Linked DNA regions of Homo sapiens: region 2 is linked to region 1. Evidence: fine-mapped QTL for protein levels in blood plasma. A gene starts in region 1. The other region holds a variant in brackets. All regions are shown on one strand. Distances are between the middles of the regions.

Region 1 (2,926 bases):
AGAAATGCAAATCAAAACCACAATGAGATACCATCTCACTCCAGTTAGAATGGCGATCATTAAAAAGTCAGGAAATAACAGATGCTGGAGAGGATGTGGAGAAATAGGAACGCTTTTTCACTGTTGGTGGGAGTGTAAATTAGTTCAACCATTGTGGAAGACAGTGTGGCAATTCCTCAAGGATCTAGAACCAGAAATACCATTTGACCCAGCAATCCCATTACTGGGTATATACCCCAAGGATTGTAAATCATTCCACTGTAGGGAACACATGCACACATATGTTTATTGCAGCACTATTCACAATAGCAAAGACTTGGAACCAACCCAAATGCCCATCAATAATAGACTGGATAAAGAAAATGTGGCACATATACACCATGGAATACTATGCAGCCATGAAAAAGGATGAGTTCATGTCCTTCACAGGGACATGGATAAAGCTGGAAAGCATCATTCTCAGCAAACTAACACAGGAAGAGAAAACCAAACACCGCATGTTCTCATTCATAAGTGGGAGTTGAACAATGAGAACACATGGACACAGGGAAGGGAACGTCACACACCAGGGCCTGCCAGGGGCTAGGGGACAATGGGAGGGATAGCACTAGGAGAAATACCTAATGTAGATGATGGGTGGATTGGTGCAGCAAACCACCATGGCGCATGTATACTATGCAGCAAACCTGCACATTCCGCACATGTATCCCACGAGCAACAGATGCTCATGATGGTTGTAAAGGATCAACTGTATTTTAAAACATAATTTAATATATACTTTTAATAAACACATTCATATTGTTCAAACTATAACCCATAGATTTTTTTGTTTCCTTTTTTTTAACTTTTATTTTAAGTTTAGGGGTACAAGTGCAGGTTTGTTACATAGGTAAACCTGTGTCCTGGAGATTTGTTGTACAGATTGTTTCATCGTCCAGGTATTAAGCCTAGATTTCTTAGAAGGAAAAAGACACCAAAAATATGTTCTTAAAGGTCAAGGGCTGGGTTTTGTATGATAGCTAGACCATTATCTGTAGGATTTGAGACCCTGGTCAAAGACCATAATAAAATATTAATCTTTGCTGAACACATTCACTTATCTAACCATCTAGTCAAAATAGCTTATGCGCTGCATTTTTAAAGAATAACAGGTGGCCTTTTGTCATTTTATGCCTCTCTATCTGAGCCAAACTATATAATCATTTGCATTATACCTTTGGCTCAAAAACGTTTATATGTTTAGGCTATCAAGGATTATTTTTAATGGTTCCTAAATCATTTTAATCCTCAGAACTACTTTGGCCAATATTTGTCTTTGTTAAAAGTTAAAGGTGAGCACTCAGTATTATGTGAAAATGAATGCAATATTTAATTTTTAGTTTTGTCCTGTTAACATTAGATGATGCCCAGATAGTAAGTCTTTTTGGTAATGTAATCAGTGGATGAGGAATCTGACCATTGTTGAAGGTTTTGTATATAAGAAGTCAATACAACATTGACCAAAATACTAACCAGCCAGAGAAACAGAATCCTAACTATTTCTGAGGAAACTGTAAGTAGAACTTCTGCTGAACAAAATTGTTATTTGAATTATTAGATTTTTTCTTTATCCCAAGTGATGCATTTTTAAAGGCTTAGATATTTGTTGCATATTCACCTGCATAAATGTATCTGTTTAAATTATGGCTTATTCCTCTAGGATTTGATTTATTTTATTCTTTTTTTTGTATGGACATGAGACTCTTAATTATGGAATGACAAATTTGTTTATTATTGCAATTAGTGCCTAATGTGAAAGTCTCATAATTTCTTAACTATTGAATTACAAATTTGTTTATTAAGTTCCTAATGTGAAAGTCTAGTCTCTGTGACTCTTCTTTTTGAGAAGGAATAGATCAGTAATCTAGTGACATATAATTGGCTGTATTAATATGCTATGTTTAATATTTAATATCATCCAAATCAACTGCTGTTGAATTGATCATTATTAATACGATTGTGAAACCTTATAGGCTATTAAAACATTTATTTAAATTATAAACTTTTCAAAACAGAAGTCTAGACCAAATTATATAAATCTCCCTGGGGATGTCCCTATAAAAGCTGGCCCAGGGTCATACTGAAGGAGTATTACAGTGGGGAAGAACATAGCCTTTGGAAATAGACTAGTTTAAAATATGGGCTCCACTACTTTCTATATATTTGGTTGGGCGAGTCCTCTTTTAGCCTTACCTTGCTTATTTGTAAAATGGATAATATAATGCTACCTACTTCATAGAGTTGCTATGAGAATTAAATGAGATAATAGTCATAATAACTATATTTAACTAACGTTTATGAGATGCCCAGCATGTTAAGAACTTTACTTTTGTTATCATAATGAATTCCCCTAACATAGAGAAATGTACTATTACAGGCCCTGTTTTATAGATGAGAACACTGTCTTAGCAAGATAGTTCATTTCACGTATACCATGTTGAACACACAGTACAGCACACAGTGAGTCCTCTGTATGTGTTAATTACTGGTATTTTCCTAGGACTTGGCAACAAGCATTTTGAGAAATTTATTCTGCCCTTGAACATCTTTGAGCCCATTGAGATGTTCTCCAACGCAAACAGTAGGTTAAGTGTCCTCACTTTACAATGGCAAATCACTTAATGGAGGTCATGTGGGTTCCTGAAATGTTTGATGAAAGCCTCTGGTTTGAATGTTACAACACTACTGGTTAGTCTTTATATATTAGTTTATCTCTTCCTAAAATATCACGGTAAAAACAAGGCTTAGTTAAAAACTGATTTTTTTTTTTTTTTTTTTTTTTTGAGACGGAGTCTCACACTGTCTCCTGGGCTGGAGTGCAATGGTGCGATCTCCGCTCACTGCAACCTCCGCCTCCTCGGTTCAAGGACTCTTGCGTCTCAGCCTC
Region 2 (2,926 bases), 27 kb after region 1:
CTGTGCTGGCTTCAGGTCTGACCCAGCACAGTCCCAGTGGCAGTGGCTACAGGGTAGTGCTTGTATTACCCACCCCTCAACTTCAGGAAGCTCAGCACAGAGACAGACCCTCCATTTGTTTAGGGGAAAGTAAGGGAAAAGAACAAGATACTCTGCCTGGTAATCCAGAGAATTCTTCTGGATCTTATCCAAAACCACCAAGGTGGTACCTCTATAAGTCTGCAAGAGCTACAGTGTTACTGGGCTAAGGGTGCCTCCTAACGCAGATATGGCTGCAGTGACCAAGAACTTAGATCACAGCACTCAAGTCCCTTTGAATACCTAGAAAGCCTTCCAATAAGGGTGGGTACAAACAAGCCCAGACTGTGAAGACTACAACAAATACATAACTCTTAAATGCCCAGACACTGACAAACGTCTGCAAACATCAAGACCGTCTAGGAAAATATGACCTCACCAAGTAAACTAAATAAGCCACCAGGGACCAACCCCAGAGAGACAGAGAAATGTGACCTTTCAGATATAAACTTCAGAATAGCTGTTTTGAGGAAACTCACAGAAATTCAAGACAACACAGAGAAGGAATTCAGGACTCTATCAGATAAATTTAACAAAGAGATTGAAATAATTACAAAGAATCAAGCAGAAATTCTGGAATTGAAAAATGCAATCGACATACTGAAGAATGCATGAGAGTCTCTTAGCAGAATTGAACAAGCAGTAGAAAGAATTAGTAAGCTTGAAGACAGGCTATTTGAAAATGCAGCCAGAGGGTGGAGCATGGTGGCTCACGCCTGTAATCCAAGCACTTTGCCTGACTAACATGGTGAAACCCCATCTCTACTAAAAGAAATACAAAAAAATTAGCCAAGCGTAGTGGCGGGTGCCTGTAATCCCAGCTACTCAGGAGGCTGAGGCAGGAGAATCGCTTGAACCTGGGAGGCGGAGGTTGCAATGAGCTGAGATCATGCCACTGCACTCCAACCTGGGCGACAGAGCAAGACTCCGTCTCAAAAAAAAAAAAAAAAGAAAGAAAGAAAGAAAATACAGTCAGAGAAAAAAGAATGAAAAAGAACAAAGCACAAAAGCACACCTACAAAATCTAGAAAATAGCTTCAAAGCGCAAATATAAGAGTCACTGGCCGTAAAAAGGAGGTAGAGAGAGAGATAGGGGTAGAAAGTTTATTCAAAGGGATATAAGAGAACTTCCCAAAGCTAGAGACAGTTATCAATGTTCATGTACAAGAAGCCTATAGAATACCAAGCAGACTTATCC[C/A]AAAGAAGACTTAATAATCAAACTCCCAAAGGTCTAGGATAAAGAAAGGATCCTAAAAGCAGTAAGAGAGGGAGGGAGAGAGGGAGAGAGAAAGAGAGAGAGAGAGAGAACATTCAAGGGAGCTCCAGTATGTCTGGCAGAAGACTTTTCAGTGGAAACCTTTCAGGTCGGGAGAAAGTGGCATGACATATTTAAAGCGCTGAAGGAAAAAAAAAAAAAAAACACCTTTTACCCTAGAATAGTATATCTGGTGAAAATATCCTTCAAACATGTAGGAGAAATAAAGACTTTCCCAGACAAACAAAAGCTGAGGCATTTCATTAACAGCAGACCTGTCCTATAAGAAATGCTAAAGAGAGTTCTTCAATTTGAAAGAAAAGGACATTAATGAGCAATAAGAAATCTGAAGGTACAAAACTCACTGGTAATAGTAAGTACACAGAAAAACAGAATATTATAATACTGTAATTGTGGTGTGTAAACTGTTCACAAGTAGAAAGGCTAAAAGAACCAATCAAAAATAATAACGACAAGTAATTTTCAAGAAATATACAGTACAATAAGATATAAATAGAAACAACTAAAAGTTTAAAAGCGGGATGAAGTTAAAGTGTAGAATTTTTGTTAGTTTTCTCTTTGCTTGTTTATGCAATCAGTGTTAAGTTGTCATCAGTTGAAAATAATGGGTTATATTATTTGCAAGCGTCGTAGAAACCTCAAATAAAAAAACATACAACAGTTCCACAAACAATAAAAAAGCAATACATTGGCTGGGTGTGATGGCTCAATAATCCCAGCACTTTAGGAGGCTGAGGCAGGAGGATTACTTGAGGTCAGAAGTTCAAGATCAGCCTGGCCAAAATGGTGAAACCTATCTCTACTAAAAATACAAAAATTAGCCAGGTGTGGTGATGAGTGCCTGTAATCCCAGCTACTTGGGAGGCTGAGGCAGGAGAATCGATTGAACCTGGGAGGTGGAGGTTGCAGGTTGCAGTGAGTTGAGATGGTGCCACTGCACCACTCAAGCCTGGGTGACAGATTGAGACTCCATCTCAAAAAAAAAAGCAATAGATTAATACATATCACCAGAGAAAATCATTAAAAGGAAGACAGGAAGGAAGGAAACAAGGAAGAGAAGACCACAAAACAATCAGAAAACAACTAACAAAATAGCAGGAGTAAGTCTTCACTTATCAATAATAACATTGAATGTAAATGGACTAGACTCTCCAATCAAAAACAGAGAGTAGCTAATCTTGTCATTTGCAACAACCTGGATGGAATTGGATGTCATGTCATAAGTGAAATAAGCCAGACACAGAAAGATAAACTTCTCATGTTCTCACTTGTTTGTGGGAGCTAAAAATTAAAACAACTGAATTCATGGAGATAGAGACTAGAATGTTGGTTACCAGAGTCTGGGAAGGGTTTTTTTTGTGTTGCGGGGGAGGGGAGTGAAGTGGAGATGCTTACTGGGCACAAATATAGAATAAATAAGATAGAGTATTTGATAGCACAATAGAATTACTAGTCAATGATAATTTAATGTACATTTAAAAATAACTAAAAGTGTATAGTTGAATTGCTTGTAACACAAAGGATCAATGCTTGAGGGGATAGATACCTCATTTACCCTGATATGATTATTAC

Which allele goes with the higher level. Positions count from the first base shown, and alleles are read on the strand shown. Strength reflects both the effect of a copy and how common the allele is.
For the plasma level of the protein whose gene starts at base 1,503 in region 1, allele A in region 2 goes with a lower level than allele C (moderate association).

Evidence for each region. A credible set is the group of variants that fine-mapping cannot tell apart. PIP is the posterior inclusion probability: the model's chance that the variant is causal. Protein levels are from antibody-based Olink assays in UK Biobank. Linkage for the fine-mapping came from a reference panel and not from the study's own genotypes, which makes the PIPs less certain.
Region 2: its variant is the best candidate, but not a certain one, in a credible set for the plasma level of the LIPF protein (UK Biobank, PIP 0.57).

Annotation. Positions count from the first base shown.
Region 1 is chr10:88,662,940-88,665,865 of GRCh38, forward strand. It overlaps LIPF (lipase F, gastric type), which reads left to right and starts at 1,503. Exons shown (of 10, transcript NM_004190.4): 1 at 1,503-1,552.
Region 2 is chr10:88,689,685-88,692,610 of GRCh38, forward strand. No RefSeq gene overlaps it. Among named protein-coding and RNA genes, the nearest start is that of LIPK, 15 kb to the right of the region's middle. The variant C/A (reference allele first, on the strand shown) is at 1,277.